Homo sapiens: one gene and its partner. The protein of the gene in region 1 interacts with the protein of each later gene in a biochemical or structural test. Each region holds a gene or a part of one and is shown in the gene's direction. Other genes may lie near its edges. The genes, in order: LIN52 and DYRK1A.

Evidence for each region.
Region 2: of the proteins of LIN52 (region 1) and DYRK1A, one has a biochemical effect on the other in vitro, tested with the Homo sapiens proteins (3 studies listed by BioGRID).

What each region holds. Positions count from the first base shown.
Region 1 is NC_000014.9:74,192,534-74,200,700, forward strand, and holds part of LIN52 (protein lin-52 homolog), read left to right. Parts: intron 1-52; exon of another isoform or gene 53-744; intron 745-6,388; coding exon 6,389-6,444; 3' UTR 6,445-8,167.
Region 2 is NC_000021.9:37,369,052-37,377,218, forward strand, and holds part of DYRK1A (dual specificity tyrosine-phosphorylation-regulated kinase 1A), read left to right. Parts: intron 1-8,167. UniProt on the Homo sapiens protein: Dual-specificity kinase which possesses both serine/threonine and tyrosine kinase activities. Exhibits a substrate preference for proline at position P+1 and arginine at position P-3.

The sequences.
Region 1 (8,167 bases):
TGCCTTGGCCTCCCAAAGTGCTGGGATTACAGGCATGAGCCACCATGCCCAGCCAACAGTGGTCATATTAATTTGAAGGTGGAGGGGTAGGATAGTTCAGTGGTGCAGTCTAAGATTAAGAGGCATACACCACTTGGTAGACTAATGAAAGCTCGTTGTGAACAACAGTATATCAATGAGGCAGATCAGATTCCAATTTGATGGGCAGCCAATTAATGAGACAGACACACCTGCACAGTTGGAAATGAGGATACAATTGATATGTTCCAGCAGCAGACAGGAGGTGTCTACTACAAAGGGAACCTGCTCTTTACTGCAGAACTCCATTCCCACAGACCAGGAATACATTCTCAGAAAACTACAACTCCGTTGAATTCCATCCTGACTACAAAAGTGTAGGGTTTTTTTTGTCCTTTCGTGTACCCCTTTCTCATTCCTTTACTGTGCATAAAGTGACTGGCATTTGTGCACAAGCATATTACCTTTTTATTTTTAAACTAAATGGCCAATGATATGTTTTGATCAACATCAGATGGAGATAAGATGGGGATAAATACTGATTCTGTGGCAATGCCCCCTTTCTCCATTAGTGGCATGCTCATTCAGCTCTTATCTTTATACTTCATTAAGTTATTTTGCCTCATCATTTAATAAAAATCAATAACAAAAAATCCTTCCATGCTTGAAGCTAGTAGTTCAAGATCCTGTCTCCACAAAAAAAAAAAAAAGAAAAAAATTAGCCAGGTATTGCATGCCTGTAGTCACAACTACTTAGGAGGCTGAGGCAGGAGGATCACTTGAGTCCAGGAGGTTGAGGCTGCAGTGAGCTATGGCTGCACCACTGCACTCCAGCCTGGGTGACAGAACGAGACCTTGTCTCTTATAAAAAAAAAAAAAATCCTTCCATACCTTGTTAAATTTGAGAATTTTGGTGTTTTTCACGTGTCATTCTAAAACCAACCAGTTTTTAAACTCTTGTACATAGCTGTTACATGTAGGGCAATATGTCTTTAAGTAGGGATAAGTTACTCTAAAAGAAATGAATCTTAGATAGTTTTCCCACCAGGCATCCTATTGCTTAAGTAAACTTTCTGTTTGAAATGAAACAAATAGTTTTACAGTAGCTAGCATTTATTGAATGCCTGTGTGACTTTGTATTAATCCTACCTTGAATGAATGAGGAAAGGAGCTCAGAAAAATAACTTGGTAATTTGCCTATGTGGCCCAGGGTCAATGTAAGAGCTGAAGTCCTGCTCTTTTCACAATATTACATTGTCTCCTTTGTTTCCTGGCCACTCATATTACAATCTCCTAAAAGCAACCTGTTATTGCTCTTCTGAATATGAGAAACCCAGTGGAAAGTAATTTGTCCCCGCTTCACAAACATTTTTAATTATGTTGAGGCATAGAAATATTTAAAGTAGTTTGCATTGGAATTGAAAAACTGAACTATGAGTTTCTTCCACTTCATTAAAAAGTTTCTTAAAATTTACATTGTTCCCTACATAAAAGCTGAGCAGAATTTTATCAGGCAATTGCCTCAAAGTTATAATCTGGACAATCTTTCTGTAATAAAACCCATATGTCATTGGGGAAAGGTGCAGAGCCCTGGCAGAGAGGGCTGGTCTTGAGAGAGGTTCTGCACCCAATCTCGTTAACCAGGGTGCCTCTGGTAATCCCTCATCCCTCACCAGTGAGAAATCAATCTGTACCACTGAATCTTTTTCAACCAGCCACCAGAAAAATTTACTGCAGAGAAGGCAGTTTGGGGATAGTTATCGTGGAAAGTGAGCCAGAAGCAAGGCTAAATGTAGGATGGAGGAATTGGAGAGTCTAAAGAAGAGATTATATTAAACCACACACCACTTTCAGAGCAGGCACAGTGGAGTCCTCCTTTCAGCCCTGACCTCTCCAAGTATACCCAGGTATTTACAGCTGCCATGAACTGGATAGCCCTGGAGGAACTACGAAAGTGGTGGGGGATAACAGAAACAGTGGAAACCTGAAAGTTGATTGTAGTCTATCCATTTGCTGTCTCTCAGTGTGTAGTAGCCAGTCCCCTCTCCACACTCTGCAGCATTTCACATGTTAACCCTATAGTGACAGTTTCAATTGTGGCTTTCTCAATTTGTGATCTATGTACGACATAATAGGGCCTGTAAATCATGACTTGACATAGGGGTCATGCTTCTCTCCTGCACGGCATACACCAGTAGCTGATGACCAGTGGGCCCCTCTTGGCATAGTTATTAGAATGGAAGCGGTGTTGCCTTCCTGTGAAACCTTGTAATCTTAGAGAATAAATCCAGAATCAAAAAAATAGTTGACAGGCTGGGCGAGGTGGCTCATGCCTATAATCCTAGCACTTTGGGAGGCCAAGGCGGGCAGATCAACTGAGGTCAGGAGTCCGAGACCAGCCTGGCCAACATGGTGAAAACCTGTCTGTACCAAAAATACAAAGAATTAGCCAAGTGTGGTGGTGCATGCTTGTAATCCCAGCTACTTGAGAGACTGTGGCAGGAGAATCACTTGAACCGGGGAGGCAGAGGTTGCAGTGAGCTGAGATTGCAACATTGCACTCCAACCTGGGCAACAAGAGCGAGACTCTGTTTCAAAAAAAAAGAAAATAGTTGACAGATTTCACTGACTCTATATAACACTCTCTCTCTCCCAATCTTGTTGTGTCTAGAATTGTTTTCTATATAATATAATACATTATGGGGAACAAAGAAAAAGGAGAAAATGGAGGAACTGGGAGTGCCAAGCTGAAGAACATGTAGTCTTACTCTGGCCATTCATCCTAGAATTATACCAAGCTACAACCATTGTGAAGAAGAAGGGACAGAACCAGGCAGTGGGGAATAGAAATGGCTTTCTCTTCTCTGTAAGCAGGCAGTAGTCATCTCTAAAGATTTTTCCCCAAAGAGATTTGAAATTCCTGATGGGAGCTTAAAAAGCTAAGAGTAAAATACATTTATTTATAAGACCCTACTAGAAGAGGTGTGTGTGGGTGTGTGTGTGTATGTGTGTGTGTGTGTGTGTGCGCGTGTAGACGAGGAATACAGAATAGTAGCAGAAGGCTGTCTCCCTACTCCTAATGGGATTTTGTAGCAGTATGTGCAAGTTTGTTTCAGAAGTCAAAAATGAACAGATGTTAGTATAAATTACCTCTGTGTCTGATGTCTTGCAAATTAAAAGCGCAGTTGGCATCACTAAACAATTTCACTAGGTTTGGGGGGGTTCGGTTAGCGGGCGGTGATTACTGTAGCAGGTCGGTAAGAATCTTCGCCCTGCAGCAGAGCAAGGATAAAGAAATGAGGAATAAAATAAGGGCTATATGAATTAATCAGAAATGTTAACATCTCTGATGACAAGTGAACAGGAGGGCACGTGCTCTGGAGCAGCCCCTGACCCACAGCAATTTCTCTGTGCACAAAAAGGGGTTGGTGCTTAGCATCTGATTTATAGGGCACAGCCCTCTTTTAGGGAGCGGCTGTGTCATACATTCGTATATCTCCTGTATGGGACTGGCGAGTAGGAAAACTTTCTCTCCTCCCATGTAGGAGATGATGTCTTTTGAATTACTTCTACTTTTACAGTGGTTTCCTGCAGCTCTGTGTACTTGGATTAGGTTGAAGGGGGAGGAATGATTGAGTAGAAAAAGGGTTGTTAAAAAGGATTGGTTAAATTCAAGGAGAGCTTGCCACTGAGAGACTTCAGAATATCTATTTATTTTTCCTTTTAAACCCTTTTGACCCCTTAAATTGTGTGGATCTTTTAAAATTCTAAGTCTTAAAATATTGGTCATTTTCCCATTTGGGGAAAAACAGTAAGGAGTTGGTGAGTCTGAAGGTCAGCAGGCAGAAATCATTGGTTAGAGCAATGCAGTGCTCCAGGCCCAGGATTTTTGGAACAAGGCTCTATTCTCTCCAGAAGACTTTTGTATTGACCGTGTCTGGTTTCCAGAGCTCCTGCTTCTAGCCATGTTGCAGGATCATTAGTTACATGTTTAAACTTGAGAGTAGACAGATAACCCATCTAGTAGAAATAAGTGAGACCCAATCTGCCCAAAAGTATAAGTAAATTTCTTTTCCTTCAAGCTGAGGGAAAAGATTCCAAGGAACGGAGTTTTGTTTGCTAGCCTCCCTTTGTGCAGTTTGTTCATTCATTCATTCATTCATTCACTCACTCAGAAAATACTAAGTGCGAGAGAACTTACCCCCCTCTGGAAAGTGTTGTGTTAATGATTAGCACTATACCAAGCATGTTCATTGCTAATATCCAAGAGAAAAGTAGGGTATTAACATGCTCTCCGTTACAAATGAAGAGACTGAGGCTCAGAGATCTGCCCAGCCCAAGGTGTCACCCTGCTGCTAAGTGCTAGAGCTGAAACTTAAACTGAGTTCAAATCCTGTGTTCTCTGCAAGAAGCCCATGCTACCTCCTATGGGCAAGACAGTACTTGATTGGATTTTCTCTAGAGTAGTTAGTCCTTGACCCCAGTCTCTCCATGAACTTGGCATTATTTGCATTAAGGGAAATGATTTTCTTGCCAAATAAGCAAGGCACATTTAAAAAGACTCCCATCATGTAGAGAATGGAGCACTGAGGGCCACTAACTAGTCATATTTGTTAATGGAAAGGAAGGAAACTAACATTTTTTGCATTTCTACTTGGTTCTAGTTCTTTGGTGTATTATAATTTATCCAGTCAACACTTACTCAGCAGACACTAGGTCTGCTGAGTCTGTAGCAGGTCGGTAAGAATCTTCGCAGTGCAGCAGAGCAAGGATAAAGAAATGAGGAATAAAATAAGGGCTATATGAATTAATCAGAAATGTTAACATCTCTGATGACAAGTGAACAGGAGAGCACGTGCTCTGGAGTTTGGATCTGATTGTGGATCTTTTGCCAAGGGAGAGAAGACCAAAGCTCTTAACAGTCTCTGCCTTCAGTTTTTACATTTTAGTGGAGGAAGACAACCATATAAGCTAGTAATTGCATGCAAGTCTTATGGGAACTTTCTTGTACAGGATTTGCTGTAAATCCATGAAGGAAGGAATGGTCTGTTTGATTTGGTCTGGGTTGGGGTTGTGAGCACATGAGGCAAGACCCAACACTGGGCTTCTATGCCTAGTTAATGGAATTTCCTTTCCCTTTGTTGGGGCACAGGAACTAGTGAAAGATGGGGAATGTATAGACTGAAGTTACAAAAGCCTCCCTGTGGTCCCAGAGGTTGTGTAGTTTTTATTTCTTCATTGTACAAGAAAACAAGAAACTGTTAAACTTAAATTGGGGCAGAGGGGAGCTGGAGGCCATTCATCTAGCTCCATTTGCTCTGGACTTGGGAAAGGCAACAAGGAGGCCAGGGTGAAGGTCCTTCTCATTCCTGAGAGTGCCTCCCTAGCCACCTCACTTCTTTGGCCAGGACGGAGATGTGTTCTTGGGAGACCACACAGCCTACCCCGTGCCTACTGCATGGTTCCAGAAGGCCTGGCTTCCAGAGCCAGCCATCAGCGATCAGAAACTTTCTGCACTGTTAAATCCATTTAAGAAATCTGAAAACATGGCCTTGCAGGATGAGGATGAGGATGAGGAAGGGGCTGTTACACTACGTATGCTTTCTGAGATCTAAAATGGGAGACCTCTGGAGTAGCCCTTGTAATTGAGAAATGTTTTACTTTCATTTTGGAGCCTTATATGTAGGAAAGTAGCTGTATAAACCCACTTGTAACTATAGCATTCAAAGATTGATGGTGCTGAAAGCCGGAGAAAGACACATAAACCTTGGCTGGCTATATTAAATAGCTAAGGACTGACAATGCCAAGGGAGAGAAGACCAAAGCTCTATAAACCCTACTTTATGACACCATCCACAGATGAACTGCACTGAGGGAATATAAACCCTGTTATATTACAGTATCCAGGGACTAACACTGCTGAGAGATAGGGTAAATGATCTCTAATTTTGATTTGAGATTATAAATGTCCAGAGACCAGCAACCCAGAGAAGACTAATCTTGGTTGGATTTTAGGCTTCAAGAGCAAACCCCCTGAGATAGTGAACATGAGTATTAGGTTAGATTCTAGAGACAGAGATAGGTTTTGGGGGAATCCCCTGGTGATTTGTTTAAAGGTGGATGATAAAATCTTTCCCAGTCATTTGGCATGTATCTCAATTGCCAACTTCAGAATAGCTTTGTACAGTTTTAGTTGTCTATAGTGGTTTGTTTTTACCCCCTTTTAGGTTAGTTGGTGATGATTGAATCTGTTGTGATAGCAACTTGATATATAATTTAAATCAATCTGCATTTTTAAATTAAATCTTCCTATGATTCTTTTTTCCGATTTTAGGTTTTCATTGATCATTTGTTTGCTTTGTGATTCCAGCCAGAGAGATGACACGGGGGAAATTCCTCAATATTCTAGAGAAGCCCAAGAAGTAGCAGCTGCTTGCGGACAGGATGTCCTGGGGTCCGAAACCAAGCTCCCTTCCCGGTGCACCTCTAACAATGCACACCTCACTGCTTGCTTGGGAGAGGCCAGAGGGTGTACCTCCAGGACTGCCCTCTCCCCTGCTCCTGGCACTCTACACGTCTGAGGACATTCAGCAGCAAGAGAAGAATCTGCTCTACCCAAGGATCATTGCAGTTACTCAATCAACTTTCAGACTTGAACCTTCTTAGCCTCGGATATTGGTAACAGCTGAGGGCATATCATTCTTAAAGGTCGAAGTCCTGCTTTCTCATTTCTGGAAGTGATTCAGGAGCCCCAGGATCTTACGGTTGATTTGACTCAGTCATGGCAGTCAGTTGTGACATGTTGATTGGATGGGTTCTTTTGAATTGTTCTTGATCTCTTAGAAAGTGTTTACGATGTGAGGAGACCAGAGACCAAGTAGATTCTGGACCAGACCATGCAGCCTGACCTGTGAACTCTCCAGTATATACTAAGTTCCCAGAATCCCCAGCTGAAGAAACCAGAATCTTCTCGAAATGTATATCTGTTTTTTAAAACTTCTATACCTCTTATGATAGTCCCATTTGCTTTTCATTCCTTACTTCCCAGCCCCACCTTCTAGTTCTGACTTCGGGCAGAGGGATCCCTGAGTCCCTCCTGGAATTAGCTTGTATAGTGAAAGGCCCATCCAAGGTTGTCTAAAGACCAATGTGAAGGTGACAGAAAGGACTTTTGAGTTCTAATTAATCTGTTACAGCTTCAAGCAAGAAAGTCAGTATAGCCTGAAAGACAAGAGAAACGGGATGGTTTATAGGAGTTCCCATTTGGTTGAAAGCTAGAAGCCCTAATTGACCTTAAAGTAACATGCTATGGGATGGTGGGATTGTCCCCTCTGACAGCACATATGAAATAGTTCATCTATATAATAGAAACGCACACACACGAAAAAGAATCTTCTGACTTAAATACAACTTTCATGGAGTTCTTCACCACTTATCTGTCTCTGTTAAAATCTGAAAATCTAGCCCATGGCTAAAATCTATTATATGTGTTCTCCATATTTCTTGTATAAGCCAGTCCCCAGCATCTGATGTTTTGAGAAGTGCATGGAGTTTCCTAAACTTTGCACAAAAGAATATCCTGGGGCCGGGCATGGTGGCTCACGCCTGTAATCCCAGCACTTTGGGAGGCCGAGGCAGGTGGATCATAGGTCAAAAGATCGAGACCATCCTGGCCAATATGGTGAAACCCTGTCTCTACTAAAATACAAAAATTAGCTGGGCATGATGGTGCATGCCTATAGTCCCAGCTACTTGGGGGCCTGAGGCACGAGAATCGCTTGAATTCGGGAGGTGGAGGTTGCAGTGAGCCGAAATTATGCCACTGCACTCCAGCCTGGGCAACAGAGTGAGACTCTGTCTCAGAAAAAAAAAAAAAAAAAAAAAAAAAAAAAGAATATCCCTGTGGCAATAGTCTGATGGTGTTTGGACACAAGAAAAGTTATGGTTTTGAGTCGTGAGTGTTTGCTAGGGCATGGCACTCTTCAGTTTAACAGCTGATCCATTAAACCTTTTCTGACATTTGTGCCTTGTTCTCATGCTAGAATTAATGCTGGATTTTTCTCTCATTTGACCATCAATGTAGTTTTACTTATTGAAAGGAAAAAAGACTTAACACAAGATAGGAAAGATGAGTATGAGAAGTAAAACA
Region 2 (8,167 bases), on another chromosome or scaffold:
TTTGATTATAGTCATTTTTTGAGTATTGATGAGTCATAAGAAAGTTTTGTGTAAAGTTATTTTTAGTTATTCTTTGAATGCTTAAGGGTTCCTCTGTGACCCTTTTATAGTTTATGTGTCCAAAGTATTAATGAATATATTTAGCATTTTGATTTTGAGGTGTTTTAATAACTCAGGGGAATTACCTTTAGCTTTTGTGTTGTTTAATTTCTCATGTCTTGATCAGTTACTTTAGGATAATATTGTTTTCAAGTAGACTTTTAAAAATGTGAGACCAGAACTAAAGTTTCATGTGTTAAGGTTTTAAGCTGCAGAAGATCATTTCAAAGAAACTGGTTATGAAAAAAGCTTACTTGATTATAGTCAAGATTTTTTACGCATACTTCAGGTATCCCAGTACTTTGGAGGATTTTCCCTGGTATAGCAGTGGTGTTTATGGTAGCTGTCCAAATTTATTTATACTTCAAACCATGCCAGAAAGTTAAGGATTTCTGTCAATGTCTACACCTAGTTCTCTTGTTAAGACTAGTAAAAAGTTCTCTTGTAAAAAGTTCATTTTTACCTCGAGAGGCATAAGCTCAGAGATTATTGCAGGAGGAAGGGTCACCCCTTGTGTTTGCGCCATGAAGGCACACTCCTTTTTACCTGGTGGGTGTTGAAAAAATATTTGAAGGAATAGACCTGAATGAATGGTAATTATTGGTAGGGGTGGGAAATGGACTAAATGACCTAGTGAGATCTTTGTTTTGAGATCTAAGTATAAGATCATCTCTTAAACCTTTTAACAATATTTTGGTGGAACCTATTAGAAACTTAACACATTATTGTGTGCAAGATATCTAAAAATAAGTCCAGTTTTTTAGAGGCAGTAACATTTAAGATAATTTAAAACATTCCATATTAGTGTAATGTCTTGTTAGGGAATGTGGACAGTAAAAACGACCATTTGTTAAATTTTTTTTCCCCTCCAAAATATTGTCTGATGTTTGCTCCTTCGTGTTACTTATGGAGAGTTACTGTTTATGACTTAAAGATATGGGGGTGGAGAGGCCTAGGTAACTGCAACAATGTATTTAGGTAATTTACATTAGGTTTTTAGAGGGCTATGACTATCTGCAAAAGGAAAATTCAAGATACCTTGTTATAAACATGGTATACAGTGACCTTTGGCATGCATTTTGTTTTGTAACTACACGAAGTGTTAATTTGGATTGAATCTTTGTTTTCACTTGAAAACCTTTTTTTTTTTTTTAAGAAATAGCTTGGAAATTTAGGCTGCCCTGAGGTGTTTTCGTGTGTCTGTTTATGGTTGACAAGTATCTAGTTATGAGAAGAAAATGTGGATAGAATTAACTGTATTATAGGCGAGAAGGGAATTGCCTTATAATCTTGTGCCACTGAACACAAGATTAGTAGAAGAGTGGGCTTCACTTGTGACTTTCTTGGTATTTGTGATTAGGCGTGTGCCAGTTTGTCTTTGCTTTGGCATTAGCTTTCCTCATATTTGAGAAGGCTTTCACGTTTCCTGTACACACACAGGAAGCAGTTTCACCCCTCCCCAAGAAAAAACTTATCTAAACCCAGCAAAACCCAAAAACTTCCAGAAAGTCTTTATCAAGAATTTAGTTCCTCATCCCCAAAGTTGTGTTAGTCTTATTTTGTAGTAATCATAAGCAGTTATTTAAACTGAACCAAGAATCTTTACTTTCTGTTGAGTGTTTTGGTGATTTTACCTCCATATATGTTCGTCTATTTTCGATTTAGAAGTAAAGATATTACGTGAAACTATTAGTAATGTTTCCTGAAACTTGATACTAACAGTTTGCTCTGTGAAAGTGAATTGTGTGACCAGTGTAATAGCACCTTATGTATATATGGTGGTTTTGCCTTTTAAAAGACTTTTTACCAGATGTTATCTTGACTGTTGGGCAATTTTCTGATGGCTAGAGAGGTGGTAATTTATGACCCAAAGCTTGCTCAACTTTGGATTAAAAAGTTTGGAGAGTTAAAATTTGTGTTTAATTACTTGGAAAAATCAGCAAATTATATTAAATTACCTAAAATTTCTCCTCAGTTGCTCCCAAATGAAGAAAGCTTTTTGAAATCTTGCCTTATGTCAGTGCTACAATTTTAAGCTAGAGTTGTAAAGTTTACCATAGAGTGTTTGAAAGTGAAATGTAGACTTCATGTGACTAAAATAATCATTGAAGGTTCGTTCATATTGGGTAATTGAAGAAAGATCTTATTTGTTAATACTGGCTACCAGCAGCCTTAGTTTGATTATTATTTTTTTATATGGAAACAAAATGATTTGGAAATATTGCACTGCGTAAGCCAGCTAGGTATTTAAAAAGTTAAGCTTTTGCTTTGAAATCCTACTTCCAGAGTACTAAAACGAGTGAGAATTGTTTATTGGTGATAATACCCTACGTTGAACACGTGAAATGGTGTGGTTTCTTTTGGGCATATATGTTTTGCTAATGTAGAACCATTTTGGTGTCTTGGCAATTGGTTCTTATACCAGAGCTATGTATCTTCTCTTCTAGAAAGCGATATTTAAAAGTTTGTATTACTGTTAAAACTAGGTTTTGACAAGTTACATAATTTTTTTTTGGTTTGGGGCAGATGCTCATATCTGATACATAGTGAGTAATAGCTTAAAATGTGTCTTTGTTCTTGTCAGTGAATATTCTTGTTTTATCTCCCCATGTTAGAAAAGTTTGTTTTAATTGATTTTTGGGGGGGGCCCAGTGAACTGGCTTAACATAGAATGAAACTGGCTTTCAGCATCAACTCTATTTTAAATAACATCCCTGTTCATTAAATAACCCCCTAATTTTTCTTGAGTGTATAACATTTCCAATGACAAGATTTGATTTTTTAATTTTTAAAAAAGCTTTCACAAAAAGCTTTTCCGTATTATCATTATCTATATTATTTGATAATATAGAGCCATTTCGACATCTTGGCAGTTGGTTCTTCTACCAGAGCTATGCATTTTCTCTTCTGGGTTTTTCACAAAAGCTTTTGCATGTCCGTAAAATGTTATGGACATGTATGGTTAAGGCTTGCATCTTGGCACCCATGTATTTGGGTAAAAAGATGCTTGAGGCCTGGCGTGGTGGCTCACACCTGTAATCTCAGCACTTTGGGAGGCCAGGGTGGGCGGATCACTTGAGGCCAGGAGTTCGAAACCAGCCTGGGCAACATGGTGAAACCCTGTCTCAAAAAACAAAACAAAACAAAAAAAAAACAGGTGTGTTAGTGCCACCTGTAGTCCAGGCTACTCAGGAGACTGAGGTGGGAGGATCAGTTGAGCCTGGGAGGTGGGGGGTTGCAGTGAGCTGAGATTGTGTCACTGCACTCCAGCCTGGGTGACAGAGTGGAGCACTGTCTCAAAAAAAAAAAAAAAGGTTTGAACTGTGACATCTGTCTGTCTGCTTGCTATCCAGTTATAGACAGCAGTTGAGGCAGCATGATACTGTGGAAAGATCCCCTGCCCATGAAACCATGAACAGAGGCTCCAGAATCTGGCTGATCTGAGTCTCAACAGGTTCTGTTGGCTGTGTGACTTTAGGTACAGTGATTTCACCAAACATCAGTTCCCTCATCTGTAAAATGAGGTTGATAGTAATTAGCATAGGAATCTTGTGAAAATTGAGATAATGCATGTACATTTCTTCATGGATTTCTTTCTCCTCCTTTTTTCTCTCCTCATCTTCATTCATGCTCATTCTGTGATCCTAGCATAAATATTTTCTTCAGAGAGGCCTTCCCCAAACCAGGTAGTCTTCCTTGGCCATGCATTCTTTTTTTTGGCCAAGCAGGACCATTTGTTTTTCTTTGCAACCCTTACTGCAAATATGATTATTCATATATGTTCTTATATATAATTGTTCATTAAATTTCATTTAATATAATTGTAAATTTAATTTCTCCATTAAATTTTAAAGTCCATTTGGACAGGAAGAAGTTTTTCTTGATCATGGCTGTAACTCCAGTGCCTGGCACATAGGGGGTTTAGATTCATAGAATGATAGAATGCGGAACCTGTATGTTGAATCCTTCCTGACTACCACTCCTTAGCCATGTCATCTTGGGCAAAACAGCTTCTCCTCGCTTCAGTATCCTGTATGCCAGATATAGATAGCACCGGCTGCCCTGCCCAGGATTTTGAGAATGTGAAATGAGACACTATAATGAAGTGCTGAAGTGTAAAATGCCATATAAATATAAAATGGCACAGTAGCAATAATCTCAGTAATGGGGTTATTCAGTAGGAAGCTCTATTGTGACTTAAGAGTATAGAATTTTAGCTTTGCTGAGTTGGTTGGTAGCTAATATTTAAGAGTTACGATAAATTTAAGCTTTCTTATATGTACCAGTTAGAATGTAGATGGGCCTGTTTCTGACTAAATACAGTGGCTTAAACGAGAAATTTATTTTTCCTTCATAAAACAACAGTATAACTTATCTAAGGCTGATATGGTGGCACCACGATGTGAGGGAGCTTGGTTCCTTCTGTCTTGTTGCTTTCCTGTGCTTACCATTTTCTTCATAGTACAAGGCAGTTTCTCACTACATCCACAGTCCAGGAATAGGATTTTGGGAAGGCACATTCCATCCCTTTAAAGACAAACCTGGAAGTTGCATACATGATTTTTCTTCATACCCTATTGGTCATAACTTAGTCATGTGGCCATGTTTAGATACAAAGGAGTCTGGGATATGTGGTCTTTGATAGGTGACTATTTGGCTGAAAATTTGGGTCTACTGAAGAAGGGGAGAATGGGGGATGATTAAACATTGCCTGTTACACTTCAAAATGTTTTGGGAGAAGCTTCCAGAAATAGACTTTGAAAATACAATGGATTGCATTAGTTAATAAGTTTATTTTCTGTATTTAATCATTAATTTTTTAAACTATGGTATGTGAATTCAAATAGACCGTTATGCAAAATATAAGTAAGTGGTCAGATTAGAAAAATGTAGCTATACTTTTAGTAGTGAAGGGATTTTGGGTCTAATAACAGTTATTTTACTGACGCTTTATTTTCTGATAGAAACATGGTTCTTGATTGCTGTGCTTGTATCACGTAAGCAATATTTGAAATCTGAGCTTTTGCATTTAGTGTTAATAGTCCACTGGACCAACTGAATGTCTTCTTGCTCATACCCTCAGCAAACAATGCTACAATAACACTCGCATGTTGTCAGGATGTCATAAAGATTTGAGTCACCGAACACTGCAAGAAGGATGATAGCAGAGATATTTAAACGTACATTTACTATCTAGTATGTTCCTCTTGAATTCCTGTGGATTTGAAAAAAGAGAAATATAAATATCTAAGATTCCCTTAAACTATGAAATATTATTAGCTCTAGTACAGACTTGGGAAAACTAATGGTTCCCAAACAGTCTTCTGGAGAACTTGTCAAAGTTAAGAGATTTCCAAGCTCAGATGCCTCTCTTTCTGTAGGTTTAGAGTGATGCTCTGGAATCTGCTTTCTTTTTTTTTGAGACAGAGTCTCGCTCTGTCGCCCAGGCTGGAGTACAGTGGTGCGATCTCGGTTTACTGCAAGCTCCGCCTCCTGGGTTCACGCCATTCTTGTGCCTCAGCCTCCCAAGTAGCTGGGACCACAGGCGCCTGTCACCACGCCTGGCTAATTTTTTTGTATTTTTAGTAGAGACGGGGTTTCACTGTGTTAGCCAGGATGGTCTCAATCTCCTGACCTCGTGATCCGCCTGCCTTGGCCTCCCAAAGTGCTGGGATTACAGGCTTGAGCCACTGGGCCTAGCTGGAATCTGTTTTCTTAAGGACTCCAGGTAATCCTGATGCAGTAGGAACATTTTGAGAAACACCAATAAAGTTCATTTCTCACATATTAGAGAAGGAAGTGGGTGCAGAGAAGCTGAGTGACTAATCAGTGCCTCAGAATAAGCAGGCCTGGGACTAGCATTGTTTTTCCTGACTCTTCGTTCTTTGTTCTTTCTACAGAAGAGGGAATAAAGGACAAGGTGTACAGAGTGCAGTGGGATTTTATAGGAATAGTTATCATCTTAAAGTAAGTATGTGGCTTTTAATGTGGGAGCTTATGTCTAGTGAATGGTTGGCCCAGTTGTCCTTTTTGCCCTATAGAAAAATAATGTGAATATTTAAATACTCAAGTGAATGTTTAAAGGTTAAGTGAATATTTAAAGGTGAAAAGCTGAAGGTTTTAAGTAAGGTTTTGTTAGTATCAGCACTATTGTGGGCAATGTATATACAGCATTAGAATAGATGTATAGGCAGCTACTTACTTGACATGATTAGAAGGAACAAAGGTAGTTCTTGTCCTCAAATTACTACTTTCCTTTTAGGTTGCTTGTAATTTTCACTGTTGGAATTCATTTCATTAGATTAAGATAAAATCTGGAATTCTCTAGTTTAAAATTTTAAAATTAGAATATTCCTAGAGGAATATTACTTTTTTTTTTTTTTTTTTTTTTTGAGATGGAGTTTCACTTTTGTCACCCAGGCTGGAGTGCAGTGGCACAATTTCGGCTCACTGCAACCTCCGCCTTCCGGGTTCCAGCAATTCTCCTGCCTCAGCCTCCCGAGTAGCTGGAATTACAGGTGCCTGTCACATACCCGACTAATTTTTTGTTATTTTTAGTAGAGACGGGATTTCACTATGTTGGTCAGACTGGTCTCCAACTCCTGACCTTGGCCTCCCGAAGTGTTGAGATTATAGGTGTGAGCCACCACACCCAGCCCTGGAGGAATATTCTTTACCTGTTATGAGGTTAACACTTTATTTGTATCAGTTATTATTATTAGATCTAGCCTGAAAACCCATAGCCCTAAATTGGAACAGGCATGCCTGTTTTTGCACCCAAAAGTTGCCTTTTGGCCCGCCAAGCCCCCCTCTTCCTATACCAATATAAACCTGAAACCGCAGGCCCCACAAGCAGACGAGGAGATGAAGAACAGAATGACAGAATGGCTTGGCAGAGAGAAGAGAGAGTCTGAGTGCTGGGAGGAGTTCCACTGGGAGTGGTCAAAGGGGAGAACAGCTGCTTAGTGCAGGTGTCAGTCCAGAAATCAGAATGATGCCTGCACTAAGAATGTTTTGGAAAGGAGGGAAGAACACAGTCCATGTGCCCTTTACTGAGAAAAATGAAGGGTATGTTTAGGCCAGGCGCAGTGGCTCATGCCTGTAATCGCAGCACTTTGGGAGGCCAAGGCGAGTGGATCACGAGGTCAGGAGTTCGAGACCAGCCTGGCTAAAATGGTGAAACCCCCATCTCTACTACAGATACAGAAATTAGCCAGGTGCAGTAGTGAGTGTCTGTAGTCCCAGGTACTTGGGAGGCAGAGGCAGGATAATTGTTGGAACCCTGGAAGCGGACGTTGCAGTGGGCTGAGATCGTGCCACTGCGACAGAGTGAGACTTCGTCTCAATTTTTTTTTTAAGGGTATGTTTAAGAAATATCACCTTGTGGTATGGTCATGGGAAGGTTCATGTGAGTATTCTCTGGTGGCCAGAGGTTGGTAGTGTTAGCTTGCTTCGATGGCTTCCTATCACTGAGAGTGTTGGTAATGGCACTGTGGGTAATTCTGCCTAGGACCCTGCGCTTGATTAACTACTGGACTAGAGGGAGTGTCCCTGTTTTCTTACTGTCTTATTTGTTAGGGCCCGTATTTGAGCAGTGTTATCAAACATATAAGGTACGGTTCTGATCATCTAGGATATTCTAGTTTTTAAAGAGATCCACAAGTAGTATATAGTTTAAAAAAACAAGCTCTGTGGAATGATAGCAGATCATTTCCCCCTTCTCATGTTCCATAATAATAACTGTTCAGTTTTTCCTACCAGAAATGTATGCATGTGTATATATACACACACAATTATATATATTATACTTTTAGTATGTATTGTGTTAGAAAACTATGTATGATTCCATTATTTTTAAGTGCATAGACAGGTGTGTGTGTGTGTATGTACACAGTGTCTGTGTATTTAAAATCCAAACCAAATGGGATCAGACATACTAAACACACAGTTTTGCAACTTAAGCTTTTTATTTATTTAGTTAGTTTTTGAGACGGAGTCTCGCTCTTTCCCCAAGGCTGGAGTGCAGTGGCGCAATCTCGGCTCACTGCAAGCTCCGCCTCCTGGGTTT